2 separate regions of the Homo sapiens genome follow, and region 1 is linked to region 2. Evidence: fine-mapped QTL for protein levels in blood plasma. Region 2 holds a variant in brackets. A gene starts in the other region. All regions are shown on their forward strands.

What was found. PIP is the chance, under the fine-mapping model, that this variant and not a neighbour inherited with it causes the effect. Protein levels are from antibody-based Olink assays in UK Biobank. Linkage for the fine-mapping came from a reference panel and not from the study's own genotypes, which makes the PIPs less certain.
Region 1: it holds the start of ICA1, and the variant in region 2 is fine-mapped to the plasma level of the ICA1 protein (UK Biobank, PIP 0.91).

What each region holds. Positions count from the first base shown.
Region 1 is chr7:8,254,452-8,262,451 of GRCh38, forward strand. ICA1 (islet cell autoantigen 1) reads right to left here and starts at 7,716. Exons shown (of 14, transcript NM_001136020.3): 1 at 7,643-7,716. ICA1-AS1 (ICA1 antisense RNA 1) reads left to right here and starts at 7,774. Exons shown (of 6, transcript NR_125740.1): 1 at 7,774-7,968.
Region 2 is chr22:38,056,788-38,066,930 of GRCh38, forward strand. PICK1 (protein interacting with PRKCA 1) reads left to right here and starts at 617. Exons shown (of 13, transcript NM_012407.4): 1 at 617-800; 2 at 966-1,063; 3 at 2,447-2,558; 4 at 8,215-8,343. The coding sequence starts at 1,023. RefSeq lists enhancers at 69-694, 391-450, 695-1,318. The variant A/G (reference allele first, on the strand shown) is at 3,804.

The sequences.
Region 1 (8,000 bases), not on the chromosome of region 2:
ACTATATGATCATGTATGCTCAGCTAACAGCACCACACTTGCGTCTGCTGGGTCATCTAGTTGGCGTTATTTGAGAACTAATAAAGATCCCTTTTTCAGGTTCTCTCTACTTTCTCAGGAAATAAACAGCAGCAAAGCCCAGAGCTTATAAAGCACAAGACTGGTTATTTTGATGGGGGTCAGGAAAGACAGGGATATTGGGCATGTACCCTCTAGGGCAGACCAGGTAGAAAACCCAGAAAGTTGCTTGAAGGTACTGAGTTCCAGGTTAGGAGTGCAGAGAAGAGAGAAACAGGAAGCAGAAAGTGGGGAGTGGCTTAGCACAAACACAACACAATGTTTACATACTTCACAATGATGCCAATGCTGCAAATGGCAACACTGAGTCAACAGCATTAGGCACCAGGACACTTAGCTCCTGGCCTTCAGGGAGCAGTGGGAAGAAAACCCTGCAGGGTGGTGACAGGCAGTCTCCCTCTTCACGCACTCTGGGGAACCATGGCCTTGGCACTGCGCTGGGCACCTTCTGTCACAGTTTCCACTCTCTGTGCACCCCTGCTCACTTCTTTGGAGCTATCCAGAATCATGACCACAACCTGCTGTTCGCTTCCTTCTCCCTAGGAAGGACAGCTCCTACACTCTTACCCCTGCCCACCTTAGTCCATCTTTCTGTCTCTTCTCTTTCATGTTAATCAACCTCCCTTGGCTTCTACCATCAGGCCTCATTCTTCAAACTCTTTCTCAGTTCCCATCCTCTTCCTTCTCTTCACAGTCAAGAGTTCTAAGCCCATGCTCTCTGGTTCCTTTCTCCACCAGCCCAGAGAACATCTTTCACTATGGGCCCCACTCAAGTCCTCATTTCTCATGACTTTTGACCACGTTCTCTTCCTTTCTTGAAATGCTCCTCTTCCTCTACTTTTCAGGAAATATTCTCCACACTTTTCTATCTTTTCAATTTTCTTTGCTAGCTTCTTTTCCTCTGTGTCTGCATCTCAAATATCAGTATCTGTAAGGTTCCAAGCTTGGAACTTTACTTGCTCTCATTAGGTGATTTCTCATTAGGTGAGGCCACTTCCATGGCTTCAACTGCCAGCTGTATGCCAACAACTTCCAAAATCACACACCTCTCCAGGGCACCAGATCCACATTTCCACCTCCAGATGGTAATCTTCACCTGGATTGTTCCACAGGCACTTCAAATTCAGCACATCTAAAACTAAACTCCTCTTTCCATCTGCACTCTCAAATTCTTCTTTCTGTGGTCCCTATGTTAATTACCAGCACTAAATGTACTGAATGGCCTAAGTTGAAAACCTCACTTCTTTCTCTTTTTTTTTTTTTTTGGCAGGGTCTTGCTCTGTTGCCCAGGCTGGAGTGCAGTGGCACAATCATGACTCACTGCAGCCCTGACCTGCTGGGCTCAAGCAATCCTCTTACTTAGCCTACCAAGTAGCTGGGACTACAGGCACATACCACCACACCCAGCTAATTTTTTAAATTGTTGGTAGAGATGAGTTCTCACTATGTTGCCCAGGCTGGTCTCAAACACTTGAGTTCAAGCAATCCTCTTGCCCTGGTCTCCCAAAGTGCTAGGATCACAGACATGAGCCACCACACCCAGCCTCTTTCATCTTTTGCAACCAGTCTCCAGGTTCTCTCCATTCTACCTCTTAAAAAGCGATTGAATGCATCTTATCTTTTCTATCTTCACAGCTTAGGCCTTAAGAGGCAATGCTATCTGTGTACCTGTCCATTCCAATCTTTACAACACTGCCCGACCTATCACTATATGATGCAAATCAAATTTTTCCACTCTCCTACTTAAAATGTTTTAATTGCTTTCTCTTGCCACTAGAGAAATTCCAAACATTTTTTGAAAAAACACAGGCCCCTTTACATCCTGGCTCCCTTCCCCCCAAATCTTACTCTCCTCCCCACCCTCCGATAGAACTATTCCCTCTGCGCATGTCAGAACGCTTGAGCTTCCCTGAATATACTATGCACTTCAAGGACTTGAGATGATTCTTTCCACTTGGAATGCCCTCCCCCTCCTTTGTCTGATTGCCTAACTTAGAATTTACATCAAGACTCTCCTCAAATGTTGCCTCTTCAGTGAAGTATTCCCAACTCAACATCTCGTCTCTATCCCTCTCCCCATGGGTCTTGCACTCCAGACCTCCCCACTGAAGAGTTAACTGCTCCATACTGGTGGTGCCACTGCACTCCTGTACTCTCCTTCAAGGAGCTAATTACATCTGTATCTCCTGCACTAGACTGTAGGTCCCATGAGTACAGGGACCCTCAAGTTCATCTTTGCCTCCTTAGCACCAAGCATGGCCCCTGGAGCACAGTAGCCATTCAGTACATATGTGCTGGGCAAGGGGCAATAATTATGTTCTACCACTTACCAAGCACTTTACATGTGTGAAGCACTTAACATCATTATGTCATCGCCACACATTATGAAGGGGATATCAACCCATTTTGCAAGTGAGAAACAAAGTTTAGAAGGACGAAGTAATTTACCCAAAGTCAACAACTGGTAAACACAAGTTTACTTTTGACTTCTGAGCTCCTGTTTTTAACTACTCTGCTCTACTCTTGGATGAAAGGAGCTTGATTAATGGGGCTGTTTCAATAAAAACAATCTCCCCCAATCACAGGCTTAGGTGCTGGGTTAGGCCCAAATCCACTGCCAATATAGTGCTACTGTGCACAACAAAACCTGCAATTGCTGATTGATTTCTTCCTTGATAGTTGTCAGGGTTCCTATGACTAAGGAGAGGGGCACTATTTATAAATATCAGCTTCTTGGTTTCTGGCTTAGAATGCTCTACCCTGGAAATATCACAGAGAAGACCGGATTTTCCCCTAGGTACTATTAGGTTTCAGAAACTGATGTCTATGCCCTGTTCTGGGAACAGAGATGTGGCAGTGAGTGTGATCATGATGATGGTAAGAGATGGATTTCAATATGTATACTCTTGGAACATTGTTGCAATACTTAAGAGTCACTTCTTGTACAAATACTTTCACTAACTAGAACCAGAGGACCTTTCTAGTCTCCAATCTAGACTCTTAAAATTAACAATGACTACTATCTATATATTCAGTGGTCCATCACTGAACACATATACCTCATATTTTCCACTCCACAGAACTATATTGCATTCAGTCACCCTCTCTTAATTCATGTATTTTCTGCTAAATGTATTCTAAAATTGAACTCTGCAATGTTCTCTGATTCTAATGACTTTTTAATATTAGTCCCCTATTTTCTACTAATACCTCCACCACCTCCACAACCATGCAACGAATATTTAGAATCAGTCCTGTGCTTACACTAATTAGTGCATCTAATCCTCCTGAATCACAGATGATCAGACTTGTCCAAGGCCACTCAGCTAGTAAGGGACACACATAGACACTGGGCTCCAGACACGAGGACTATTTGTATTAGCATTCTCTCCCTTACTTGTTGACTTTTGTACACACATACACATGGTTGGGAGTGGGGAACGCTCTTTCTCCCCACTCCCAACCCTTATTTACCTGCTGAATTCCTACTGGTTGTTTCAGGCTCAACTCAAGGGCAATCTCCTCCATGAAGCATCTCAGGGTTTCTCTGCCCTTTCTCCTGTTGGGGTGGGATGCCCCCGCCCTGGGCTGCATTACCACCTGTGTCTCTATCTCCTTCTTGCTTTCCCTGAAAGGCAATTGGTTAGTTGACTCCTCTCTTTCCCTCTTTTACTCAGCTGTACGCTCCTCCAGAGCATGGTGGGGTCTGAGTCTTGGGATTCTGAGTGTTTAGCACAGTGTGTAGCTCATGGCACATATACAACCAATGCTTGTTCAATACTAAGTCATCCCACTTCTCTGATTTGGTCAAAGGCCTGATGGATGATGTCATCTGACTTAGCAAGAGAGACAGATGATTCCCATCATGAGTGATGCAGGCCATCATTTCCCCACCTTTTCATGAACTCATTCTAGCTCACTAGGTTTACACTGGGACAAGGAGTTACCACTAATTGAGGAACTGCCACTTCTCAGACACTGGGGTGTATGCTTCACCCACATCACGGAGTATCCTCGCAATACGGCCAAGTTGACATAATGATTTATATTCATTTCACGAAGAAGTTTAAGTTCAGTTATCTTAAGCAACTGGCCTACAGTCACATAGTAGGCAGGCTTTGTTATAAAAACAGGTATAAAATGCCCTATCACATGTAGTCTTCCCTGTCCTGGAGAGATTCATTAGTTATTTGTGAAAATTACTTACAGGTCAAAAAACAAAAACTATGTTAATTTGATGCTATAATACTAAATAGTAAATTGCTAGAATAGTGAAAGTGTGGTCAGCCAGGATTTTTAGAGGCTCCAAGGCAGTTCTACCATATGCATCTATCCAGGGCAAATCATGCCTGCAGTCCTTATCAGACAGATGGAGATTATAATATCTACTTATCTCAAAGGGGGTTGAGTATCACATAAGATCATAGTTGCCAAAGTGCTTTGTGAAGGAAGAGGACAGAGGCTCATTTTAGAGTAGTGTGCTGGACAGTCTGTGGGAGACCCTAGGGATCAGAGCTACCTGAGATGTTGCTTAACAGCAGATGAAGGAAGCTTGACCGGGAATCCACACTTATTTTAACAAGCCCCCAAATGATTCTCTGGGACACTAAAGTTTGAGAAATAACAGGTTACAGCATTGCTTCTCAAATGTTAACATACTCATGGAGATCTTGTTAAAATGGAGATTTGAATTCACTGGGTCTGGAAGAGAGTAGCAGGCACGCTAAGATTTTGCATTTCTAATAAGCTCCCAGGGGAGGCCACATGCTACTGGTCCATGGACCACGTTTGAGTGACAGGGGCTTGGAAGATCTATCCCCACTGGAACAAATTAGATTTGTTTTGTTTCTGGTTGCACCCCCCAACTTCAGAGAGTGTTTTCCATAAAGCCCAGGGTCTTAGTATTGGTACAAAATTATTTGAACTACTCAAAACCAAATTGAAATACACTTCCTATCACAGGCAAAGCAGCAGCATTCTTTTTAGATACGGATAGCATATGTTTAGCATGTGAAAAAATAATTTATTACTACTGAGTGAGTCCTATTTAAAAGCGTGCAAAGCATTTTATATACATTATCTCTAATCTCCACCCTGCCCCTAAAAAGGTGGATATTCCTGTTCTGTAGATAAGGAAATGGTGACTTAAGTAACTTGGTCAAGGTCACACGGCTAGTTAGGTGTTACCGCAGGGATTCTGATTTTGCTCCATCAGGATCCAAAGCCCATGAGTCCTCCATACTCCCTCAGAGTGTTAGATATGATTGTGATACGAAATGTATCAGCTTGGGAATCAAGAAAAAAGCGGGGGAAAAGTGTTTTTTGAGTTTAAAGTTCTGCTGAGGCAGATTGCGAATGGTGGTGGGGTTGGGGGATAAGATTCATTAGTGATCTATGTTGCCTCATGGACAAAACATGCAGATAGCATCCTTATTAATGGTTCCCATAAATCTAGTAATGCAGATGGAAAAAAAGGACACTAGTGACCAGCGTGCTGATTATAAACACTGCCACCTACCCTCAGGCTCAACCAACGAAGAGGAAAAATTCATCCTGACACTTGGGGCCTGTTAACTTCCTCCCTCTCTCGCATGAGGTTTCTATAATCTTAAAAGTTCATACCAAACATAGGTTTATCCTTCTACGTTATGGCATAACTACCAGACCTCCATACCGCTAATGCTGCTTGCACCTGAAAAAAATGTACTATTTAGTCAAATACCTTGAAAACGTACTGATTTTGAAGGCTCTGAGTAACAAAATTTTCTATACTTTTCGTGAGATTGATCTTTATGCACTGCGGTAAAGATGCGTAGAGAAAGCAGTCAGATAGTTACTCAGGTGTTCCAAATGGGGGAAAATAGTTACAAAATAAACCACCCAGGCAATTACCATCCAGTATCTTTAGCACTCAATGATCCACGGGTGGAGGATACAGGGTTAACGTTTTTTAACATCAGGTCTCTCCACAAATAGCCCGCTGTAGCTTAACTGTTACGTTTTCTAAAGATTCATCTTTATAAACAGTACAATTATTTCCCTTTGTAATACAAACAGAAACAATTAGAAAGCAACATCTCCTGCAATTAAGATGTATGTACAGTATTAGTATAAAACCAAAGAGTGATATTTGAGCTATTCAGGATTATAAATTGATTTTGTCCCTGTGGTATTCTCTACAAAGGGTGTTTCAAAAATAAAGACTGAAATCTAAAAATATATCTTTGGTTTGAAAACTTACTTAAAAGCATTTTTAGAGAGTGTGTGTTTTAAACAGGGGGTATGAAATTGCATCGGGAGCCTAGATTTCAAACTAAGCATTTCTTATTTCACTCCCTAACCACAGAACAGTTCAGATCTCAGATTCAAACCAGAGGGCCACAGAAACCAATTTGAGATTTTCCGAAGAGACTTCACTGAAACGTATGGACAAAAACATGTTTGCGATGAGTCATATTTTATAGGACCTTAATGGCCAATAAATGCCTTATGTGTCTTTCTTCCTACATTCAGTATCACTCCCAAGCAAGCTGGTGACATATTTTCCAGGCCTTGATAATTTTTATACCGTTACCAGATCTCGGTTACTAAGATTCATGAACAAAACCCTTTCTTGCGCTAATTTTTTAATGCCATCTAAATGAAGAGAACGCGATTCTTTCCAAACTAACTCTCCCCAACCAGGCAGTTAATGCCCTTCGCCAGAATAAGGGCGCGATACTTTTAAGACCCCAAAGAGAAGCTCAGGTGCTTTGGGGGTACTACAAGTAAAAAGACAGTGGGAAAGGTTCCTGGAGAGCCGCTTTGGGGGAAAGGCAGACATAACAACAGGATATGTTCGTTTCTAGAGGAAGCAGGAGCTGCAATAGCCCCGGAGCAGGAAAGGCGGAGTCAGCAGCGCCCAAAGGAAACGGGCGCGCCAGGGTTTGCTGGAACCGGGGTTGCTTAGGGGTTCTCGCCCCGTCTAGTCCGAGACTGCTGAGCACCTCGCCCCCGGGGGACCAAGCTCAGGCCTCCTGGCACTAGTGGTTATAAAGAGGTACCCATATGCTCTCTGCCGCCCCTGCCAAAAAAAGGGCCACGGAGGGGAAGAGAAAAAGCACACACCAGGCGCCGCGGCAGGTGAACTTGTCAACAAGTCAACCCTGGACGCAAGTCCCTGCCCACCAGGGAGCTCGGGGTCCTGGGGCCGGAGCCGCCGGGAAGGCGAGGCGCGCGGTGGGTGGGTGGGGTGGGCTGGCATGGGTGCCGGTGCTCCCAGCGCTGGGGCCGGAGCGCGGAACGCTTCCCTACCGCTCCCCCGGGGCTGACGCACGCTCTCACGGCGCGCGCATCCTCCAGACCTTCCCAGGCCGGAGGGAGGAGGGGAGGGGAAGGGGCTGATGCGGTTCCCGCACCGGGATCCGGGACCCGAGGAGGCGACTCGCCTATCACGCGCCGCCCGCGGAGGGCAGAGAAGGCAGCTCCTACCAGGCGTCCCCGACCGTCCCGGCTGCCGGGCGTCTCCTGCTGCTTCCTGCAGCCCGCCCGGCGCGCCCCCGCCCCGACCCCGGAGGGCAGGTACCTCGGAGCCCCGGCCCCCAGGAGCCTCCCGGCCGCGGTCGGAGCGTCCCTCCGGATCACTCATCCGACGTCAGCGTCAGCCGAAGGCGAGGGAAAGGGGCGGGGGGAGCGCAGGAACCGGCCCTTCCTGCGGCGGCCGCCACCAGCCGGAATAGCAACCGGCGGAGCCCGTGCGCACCGCAGCGCAGCGCAGCGGCCGGGGGGTGCGGGCGCCCTCGCCGCCCGGCTACCTACCGCCGCCTGGGCGCCGCCGCTGCCTCCCTTCCCCGCTTCTACCCTCCAGCAGACGCCCGCCGGAGCGACCCCTCCCAGGGTGACCGGGGGAAGGTGGGTGGCGTTGACCTCACCTTGCTTGGGGA
Region 2 (10,143 bases):
CAAGACCCACTGAATACACCTCTCCTGGCTCTCTGTTTAGTGTTTGGACGTTCAAAGATCCCTAGACTAGGCGGCGGGAGTTTCAGGGCCACGATCCAGATCTTACACCAACTGTGTGTGGCCCCGCACAAAATCACTCCCCGCTCTTTGGCACTTAAGTTGGCGAAACTGGGATGGGCTGGGACCTCAAAGGGCCATTCTAGTAGGGGAGTCACAGGCCCAGGTGGTGAAGGGGTGAAAGGGCATGATGTCTTGGGGTTTATAGTCCACTGAGCCTCGCCGGAGGTAACCCCGGCTCAGGGATGCTTTCGTTGCCATGGCAACCGCCGGGCCGGCGCGGGCCCCTGAGTGCAGCTGAGGAAGCTGGGACAAACCCTGCCCTTCCCAAGATGGCGGCGGCGGCAGGGCAAAGGGCGGGGTTAGACGCTGTCAGCCTGTCCAGACCGTTCCTCTGTTTTCGCTTGTTCCTACTAACAGCGAGCTTCCGCCAATACTTGTTCTCGTTCTTGGTTCCGAGCGTCCCGGGAGCCGGGAAGGGAAGGATTGTCTGCAGGGATTGGAGCAAATATCCAGTGGGGGGAAAGCCGGGACTTCCGCGTCTTGCCGGAAGTGACGTGACAATCGCGGCCACCGCCAGGTGGAACGGCAGGTGGGTTCAGGTACCAGCCTGGCCGGGACCCGGCTGTGGGACCAACGCTTCCGGTGAGCGACAGAGGCAGCTCCCCAGGGCCTGGAGACCCGTGGGGCGGACTCTGGGATCTGAGCCTATCGCCCTGGCCTGGAGCCCCCCTTTGTACCTAGTAAGAATCACCTACCCAGCCCCCCACCCGGAGACTGTCCCATCCCACTCCAGAGGGAAGAGGAGGGCACTGCTGTCCCGTATGAGGTGGTGGAGGGAGGGGTGGCGTTGGCATTTAGGCACTTGGGTTCCTTAAATCCTATGCTCCTTTCTCTCCCGGATCCAGTTCCCCATTCCCCTACCGAGCTGGGCAGTTAGCCAGCCCACTCCAACTCTCGGAACCATGTTTGCAGACTTGGATTATGACATCGAAGAGGATAAACTGTGAGTATTTTATTCCCCCAAGTTCCAGCAGTATAGGAGCCCCAAGTTCCTCATTTCCCTGGACTTCCCAGTCCCACAGACCCTTGCTTCTCAGCGGTGGATCAGTTGTTGTACTGAAGCAGCAATGGACCCTGCTCTCCCAGGAGCTCACTATTTGTAGGGGGCTGTGGACAGTTAAAGGGATAATCACAGCTCAGTGCCATAAGGGCACTATTAGCATGACTTGGTGACAAGAAGAGCAAAGCAGATGGAGCAGTGCTTCTGCTGGGATGGTCAAGGAAAGCTTCATGGAGGACGTAGCAATTGAACCAGGTTTTGAAGGTTGAATAGGAATATTGTAGACACCCTTCCTTCCCAACATAGGTTGTTAGTAGGACAGATTTTCCCATTAGAATATATCCTCTTTCAGATCAAGGAGTGGGTGCAATGCCTTTCTCTATGCTCAGCACTTAGTAAGGGACTTGACGTCAGTAGGTTGTTAGCGAATGTTTTTTGAATGAATAAGTGAATCAGCGTGAGTACTTATCATAAAACACCAGTCAATGCTAATTTATAGTGGAAACCGAGAGGTAATCGAGCAGTTGAGAGGTGGGAGGTGGACAGTTTAATAGAGGAAGACTCCCTGGAGTAGGTGGCCATCATACTACATAGATGCCTGATAAGGTGACAAGGACAGAACCTGGCTCAAATCTCAGAGATCGAATAAATGAAAGGGAAGGGGGACCTATTTTTATGGAGTGCCTGCTATGGACTGGGTTGCTGTTAGTGCCCTCCATGCATGGTTAGAAGAACTCTGATAAGGGTGCTCATCCACATTTTATGGATGAGGAAATTGAGATGCACAGAGGCTGACTTACCCAAGTCCCATAGCTGGCCAGGCACGGTGGCTCACGCCTGTAATCCCAGCACTTTGGGAGGCTGAGGCAGGCGGATCAACTGAGGTCAGGAGTTCAAGACCAGCCTGGCCAACATGGTGAAACCCCGTCTCTACTAAAAATACAAAAAAATCAGCCAGGCGTGGTGGCAGGCACCTGTAGTCCCAGCTACTTGGGCGACTGAGGCAGGAGAATCACTTGAACCCGGGAGGCGGAGGTTGCAGTGAGCCGAGATTGCGCCATTGCACTCTAGCCTGGGCAACAAGAGTAAGACTCCATCTCAAAAAAAAACCAAGTTCCACAGCTGATAAATGGCAGAGCTGGGGTTTGATCCCACATCTGCTTAACTCCAAGAGCTGTGCATGTTCCAGCACAAAATGTTGTTTTGTCCAAGGGAGGGAGAGAAAAAGCTGGGCAGCCAGTGGAGCCCCTCAGGAGTTTTAGAGGGCCCACCCGCTCCAGTCATCCTTCTGCCAGGAGAGTCAGCCTAGCTTGCTTTCCTTTCTAGCGGAATCCCGACTGTGCCTGGGAAGGTGACCCTGCAGAAGGATGCTCAGAACCTGATCGGGATCAGCATTGGAGGAGGGGCCCAGTACTGTCCCTGCCTCTATATCGTCCAGGTATTGGGCGCTTTGGAGGGGGGCACAAGGTACATCCCTACTTGGGCATGACAAAGGCAGGTTCATTTCTCCACACTGCATAGCTGACTCCTTCTCATTCTTGAGGTCTGACCCTCTCAGAGGGGCTTTCTGACCACCTGCGCTGCGTTGCTCTGCCCTGTCTTCTCCCCTGTGTCGCTCTGTTTTTTTCCTTCTCGGCACTTATTACTTGTTATTTGCCCTCTGTCTAGTAGAGTAGACTCTTTGCACTGAGGGCAGTGTCCTGGTTTGCTTTTTCACTGCAGTAAGCACCAGGTACAGTGCCTGGCACATAGTGGACATGCAATAGAAATTGACTATTGAATCAACAAAACCATCAGCCTTGCGTACTAGCCAAAATGAAGTGTCATAGGAACACGATGAAATAATGGCCTGAGTTCAAATGCAAGCTTCTTTCCTACTTACTAGCAAGTTACTTAACCTCTTTGGGCCTCAGTTTCATCACCTAGAAAGCGGGGATTTAAAACATGTAGACACAATCATCTCTGGGTTCTTGTGAGAAGTCAACAAAACGACCTAACACACTAGAAGTTAAGAAACGTGCATTGGCCAGGCATAGTGGCTCACACCTGTAATCCCAGCACTTTGGGAGGCCGAGGTGGGTGGATCACGAGGTCAGGAGTTCGAGACCAGCCTGGCCAACATGGTGAAACCCCGTCTCTACTAAAATACAAAAATTAGCTGGGCGTGGTGGTGCACGCCTGTACTTCCAGCTACTTGGGAGGCTGAAGTAGGAGAATCGCTTGAACCTGGAAAGTAGAGGTTGCAGTGAGCTGAGATCACGCCACTGCATTCCGTGCATTCCAGCCTGGGTGACCGAGTGAGACCCTGTTTCAAAAAAAAGAAAGAACCATGCATTAAGCAGTAGCTGCTGCTATTTTCCAGGTAGCTGTACATTTTCCCAGATGCTCTGCCAGTGGTGAGGAACACTCTTGTGTCTCTTGCAGAGGAAGCTGCACTGGTGATATTCTGTCCACTGTAACTCAGGAGTGGTGACAGGCCTGCTGTGGGGCCTCCTTCACTGTGTGGCTCATCCAAGTCAGTGACCTTGCTGTAGCCTTGGGAATACCTGTTCTAACCCTCTCACTGGTGGCAGATGGGAAACTGGCCTCTGTGAGGATCTTGCTCAGGAGTCGCTTGTAGGCCTCGAAGACAGATTCCCAGGATCGACCTGGTCTTGCTTCTGCTCACAGTGCTGCCTCCTTC[A/G]TGAGCCATTCGGCCTCCTGTGACCCAGGAGGCATTAGCAAGACCTCCCCCAGGCCTGGCCTCCTGGCCGTGTGTCTGCTCAGCCTCTCGCCACCTCCCTCTACCTACCTCAGGTGCAAGTTTGCTTAGAATGAACAGACATCATAAAATAGTATAATTGATTTTTTTTTTTTTTTGAGACAGAGTCTCACTGTGTTGCCCAGGCTGGAGTGCAGTGGCGTGATCTCAGCTCACTGCAACCTCTGCCTCCTGGATTCAAACGATTCTCATGCCTCAGCCTCCCGAGTAGCTGGTATTACAGGTGTGCGCCATCATGCCCAGCTAATTTTCGTATTTGTAGGAGAGAGAGGTTTTAGCTATGTTGGCCGGCCTGGTCTCGAACTCCTGGCCTCAAGCGATCCACCCACCTCAGCCTCCCAAAGTGCTAGGATTACAGGCATGAACCACCAGCCAATAAAATAATAGAACTGGCCGGGTGCGGTGGCTCACACCTGTAATCCCAGCACTTTGGGAGGCTGAGGTGGGCAGATCACCTGAGGTGAAAACTTCCAGACAAGCTTGGCCAACATGGTGAAACCCTGTCTCTACTAAAATACAAAAATTAGCCAGGCATGATGGCGGGTTCCTGTAATCCCAGCTACTTGGGAGGCTGAGACAGGAGAATCGCTTGAACCCGGGAGATGGTGGTTGCAGTAAGCCGAGATCGTGCCATTGCACTCCAGCCTGGGCAGTTGAGTGAGACTCCGTCTCAAAAATAATAATAATCATCATCATCATAGAATTGATTTTTTTAAATTCAATTTTGTTTTTATCAAAGTGCCATATGACTTGCCTCTACCAAGTCAAGAGCATTAAAAGCCCTGTATCAAATAATAGCAATCCACTGCCCTTCCCCTGGGCACCTCACCCGGCTTTCTCTGTCTCTTCATGCATGGGCTTCCATTTTTCTCAATAGTCTCACTCTGTCGCCCAGGCTGGAGTGCAGTGGTGCAAGCATGGGTCACTGCAGCCTTGATTTCCCCAGACTCAGATGATTCTCCCACTTGAGCCTCCAAGTAGCTGGGATTACAGGCACGTGCCACCAAACCTGGCTAATTTTTGTGTATTTTTTGTAGAGACGGTGTTTTGCCATGTTGCCCAGGCTTGTCTCAAACTCTTGGGTTCAAGTGATCCACCCGCCTCAGCCTCCCAAAGTGCTGGGATTACAGGCGTGAGCCACCGTGCTCAGCCTATCCTGTTGTTTCTTGATCTATCACCTGTAAATATCTATTGACTTTGCCTCGTCTGGTAGATGAGAATTTAGTTCTTCCCATGACCAGTCTGTTTCCTCTCATCCCACCTTTCCAACATAGTTATTTTTCTATTTTTGGCTAAATTAATATTAGTACAACGGAGATTTTGTTCGGGAAATCTTTTCCAGATGCCTCCTAGGCTCTGTTGTAGGCACTAGGGATAAAAGAATAAGAAAGCAAAGATCCTACTCTTGCGGAGCCCTCATTCTAGTCAAAACAACTCTATGTTTAACTTTCTGAGGAATCTATGTTTCTTTTCTTAATTCAGCCTGTTCTTGTGTTTTGAGAGGGTGGGGGTAATTTCCTGTTTTGTTTTTTTCATTTGCACTCTCCTTGTTTTCTCAGTATGTTTTCCACAATTTCCCATCTTTTTTTTTTTTTTTTTAAATTAAGTCTTGCTCTGTTGCCAGGCTGGAGTGCAATGGCGTGATCTTGGCTCACTGCAACCTCCAGCCCCCGGGTTCAAGTGATTCCCCTGCCTCAGCCTCCGAAGTAGCTGGGATTACAGGCACGTGCCACCACGCCTGGCTAATTCTTGTATTTTTAGTAGAGACGGGGTTTCACCATGTTGGTCAGGCTGGTCTCGAACTCCTGACTTCAAGTGATCCACCTGCCTCGACCTCCCAAAGTGCTGGGATTACAGGCGTGAGCCACCATGCCCGGCCCCATTTTCTTCAGTCTGTTTTCCGCCCTGTAGTCTCTCCCCCTTGTGCCCTCCCCCTGCCCCTGCCCCTTCTCTTTGGATTCCCCCATCTTGGGGGTCCCTTTCCTGGTTTACTCCCTGATCTCCCGTGGAGAATATCCTCCTGTAGCTTTCTGAGAAAGGGCACGTGGGATGTCAATTTTTTGAGACCTCGGGTCTGTCTTTTTTGGTCATTGTGGTTCCCATATTCCTTTCAGTTGACATTTTGGCTCATTCGATTCAAGAATGAACGTCAAGGTTGACAGTAATTCCTGTGTGGAAGTGTGATGGCCTTGTCACATTGTCCTTTGCTGTCACATGGCTATTGCCATTCTTATTGGTGATCCTTTATTTGTGATGTGTTTTATTTCTGATCTGTGAGAACTTTGAGGACTTTGTTTTTGTCCCTGGTGTTGGGAGGAGTCGTGATGGTAGCTGCAGGCACAGGCTTTTGTTTATTGTGCCAGATCCTCAGAGGGCGTCATCGGGAACACCATGTCCTTCTTGTCATGTATCTCGATGATGACATCCTGCTTTCTGTATTCTCTGTTCTGCTTTTTTCTATTTTTTTATTGTGGTAAAATTTACCATCTTAACTTTTTTTTTTTTTGAGACAGGATCTTGCTCTGTCGCCCAGGCTGGAGTGCAGGGGTGCGATCATGGCTCACTGCAGCCTCAACCTCCTGGGCTCAAGCGATCCTCCCACCTCAGACCCCCGAGTAGCTGGGACTACAGGCACGCGCCACCATGCCTGGCTCATTTTTGTATTTTTTTTGTAGAGACAGAGTTTTGCCATATTGCCCAGGCGATCTTCCCACCTCGGTTTCCCAAAATGCTGGGATTACAGGTGCGCACCACCGTGCCCAGCCCTTGGTCTATTTTTGAATTAGGTTGTTTGGTTTTTGTTGTTGAGTTTTAAGAATTCTCTACAAAGCACAATCGGCTAAGAGGAAAAAAAGAAAAAAGAGTTTTAGGAATTCTGCATATATTCTGGATATTAATCCCTTATCAAAAATGTGATTTGCAAATATTTTCTCCCATTCTGTGGGTTGCCTTTCTTTTCTTCTCTTCTCTGTTCTTTTTTTTTTTTTTTTTCGAGACAGTGTCTCACTCTGTTGCCCAAGCTGGAGTACAGTGACGGGATCTCAGCTCACTGCAGCCTCTGTTTCCCAGGCTCAAGCGATCCTCCCACCTCAGCCTCCCAAGTAGCTGGGACTACAGGCGTACACCACCATGCCCAGCTAATTTTCGTGTTTTTTGTAGAGACAAGGTTTTGCCACATTGCCCAGACTGGATGGTGTATTTTGATGCACCAGTTTTAAAATTTTTATGAAGTTCAATTTGTTTATTTTTTGTTACTTGGATCTTAGGTGTCACATCCAAGAAATTACTGTAAACTCCAATGTCGTGAAGGTTTTGGACTAGGCATTTTTCTGAGTTTTATAGTTTTAACTTTTACATTTAGGTCTTTGAACAATTTTGAGTTAATTATTATTATTATTATTATCTTCGAGACAGAGTCTCGTTCTGTTGCTCAGGCTGGAGTGCAGTGACATGATCTCGGCTTACTACAACCTCCACTTCCCAGGTTCAAGCGATTCTCCTGCCTCAGCCTTCTGAGTAGCTGGGACTGCAGGCGCCTGCCACCATGCCCAGCTAATTTTTGTATTTTTAGTAGAGATGGGGTTTCGCCATGTTGGCCAGGTTACTCTCGAATTCCTGACCTCAGGTGATCTGCCTGCCTTGGCCTCCCAGAGTGTTGGAATTACAGGTGTGAGCCACTGCGCCTGGCCTTGAGTTAATTTTTGTATGTGGTGTTAAGTAGTGTCAACTTCATTTTTCACATACCATTGTTGAAATGACTGTCCTTCCCCATTGAATGTTCTTGACACCCTTGTCAAAAATCATTTGATGCCGCCGGGCACGGTGGCTCACACCTGTAATCCCAGCACTTTGGGAGGCCAAAGCAGGTGGATCACCTGAGGTCGGGAGTTTGAGACCAGCCTGACCAACATGGAGAAACCCTGTCTCTACTAAAGATACGAAATTAGCCGGGCGTGGTAGCGCATGCCTGTAACCCCAGCTACTCGGGAGGCTGAGGCAGGAGAATTGCTTGAACCCGGGAGGCGGAGGTTGCGGTGAGCGAGATGGCGCTATTGCACTCCAGCCTGGGCAACAAGAGCGAAACGCCGACTCAAAAAAAAGAAATCATTTGACTATGTATTTGAGGCAGGAGAATTGCTGGAGCCCAGGAGTTCAGTGCCACAGTGAGCTGTGATCACGCCACTGCACTCCAGCCCGGGTGGTGAGACGCTTTCTCAAAAAACGAGAGCAGAGGGTAGAGTGGAAGACAGAGCCAGGCAGTGGTCAGGTGTCTTCCCAGGTTCCATCTTAGCCCTCCCTTTCTTCCCCCACCACTCTCCTTATGCACCCACAGGTATTTGACAACACCCCAGCAGCCTTGGACGGCACAGTGGCAGCTGGCGATGAGATCACCGGTGTCAATGGCAGGTCAATCAAAGGGAAAACTAAGGTGGAGGTGGCGAAGATGATTCAGGAGGTGAAGGTAAGGGCTGCTGCAGAGCAGGTGTCCAGAGGCAGCAACACATGTTTCTGAGACCTCCAGGCTGCCAGAGGTCCCAGCAGGCCTGGAAGGGGGTATCAGCCCTCACCGCCCCCTTCCTTGTCATGTGCAGGGTCAGGGTCACACTCCAGCCTCCCTCATCCATCCCTCATTCATTCAATAAATACTAATCGTGCTCCAGGACTTGTGCTGAACCTTGGCAAGAGAGTGGGCAGCAAGACCACAAGGTCCCCATGAGCTCCCAGGGAGCTGACAGACTTGGAACCACCCCTCAGGCAAGCCCATGTGTCCCCAGTCAGTGCCAGAGCTGAAGCTAAAAGTCCAAGGTGATCCTCCCTGGGTCAGTAGACACCCAATAATGTCAGCCGGGTCACGCTGGGCCTGTGAGGGCTAGGAGGGAAAGAAGAGTGCCCTTTCCCCATCCTGTAGGAACTTTCGGTCCCACACAGCCTCCTGGGCTCATAGACACCCAGAGACCCCCCTCCCAGGCCAGCTGATCTTCTGCTCTACAGACCAGAGTCACACACTGCCTGCCCCGCTTTCCCCCACCCCTGCCGCTCCAGGACTGGAATGGCAGGCGGCATCCCGGCCTCTCCTGAAGCGAGCATGCAGCCCCTTTGCCATTTCCTAGCGAAGTGGCTGCTAGCTAGTCTCAGGAAACCAATACTGTGAAAGAACTGATGTGCAGGCAGTGCACAGCCATGGGGTGATTTGAAAGTCTCGGGGGCAAGGGTCCCCACTGTGAGTTCAGCTTGGCCAAGGGTGGCAGCTACCTCCCTCAGCCCCACTTCCATCCTCCGGGTTCTGGCACTCCTGATAGTCCGCCTTCCTGCCTTAACCCAGGCCAGCCGCTGCTCCATCCTCTCTCCCCTTTATCCTCCTGTCCTGCTCCTGAGTAGTCCGTGCTTCTCTCCTTCCTTGCTGTAGGAAGAGTCCCATCCTGCACATTCTCCTATTCCAGCCCCTTTAGCCATAGGACAAATCAGGGCCTGGGGCTGGGGCTCAGAGCTCTGTTGTAAAAAAAGGAAGCAGCAAGGTTCATTGAGACCCCACAGCTGCCACTCCACGTGGTCTGGGTATCACTGCCTCAGGTATGACCTGTTAGGCAGAGGAGCTGATCATGGGAACAGGTGCAGGGGGTCTCGTTCTGGCCGAGTTGGGTTGTGTGTGCCCCATTTGGCAGCCCTTCCCCCCTCCGCATCTCCTCCCCATCTCCACTCGCCAGGTCCCTCCCTGTCCTCTCAGGCTTGGTCATACCAGCACCTCAGGTTGCCCATGAGGACAAGAGCTCTTTGTATTTGCACACAGCCATGACAGGGATGCAGCATTGGCCCAGCTCCCCTGTTTGGGTGCTGGGCAGGGATTACTCTCCCATCTTACAGGTGTCCACAGGCGGGGAGTGACCTGCTTGTGGTCACACAGCTGAACTGGAGCCCGGGCCCGACTCCCACTGCAGCCCGCTTGCCGTTGGCCTACAGCTGCTCCCTGTGGGGTGGCCCCTGAGCACGCCTGTGTTTCATTCTGCGGGAGCAGTTCACACCCCACCTCTGACTCTGATTGCATCTGCTCATTTTGGTTTCCCTTTGGGACTTGATTTTAAAATCCTGTTTTATATTTGGATGAATGTGGTCCCAAGTTCAAGGGCTTTTGGTTTGCAAGGATGAGAGTGAACACAGCGCCCTCCCGTGCTCAGGCAAGTCCTCTTGGGAGAAGCCTTTGTCTCCTGAGCAGTCGTTAGAAAGTGGTTTGTGTAATTCCCTGATTCGCATCAGCCTTGCGGGG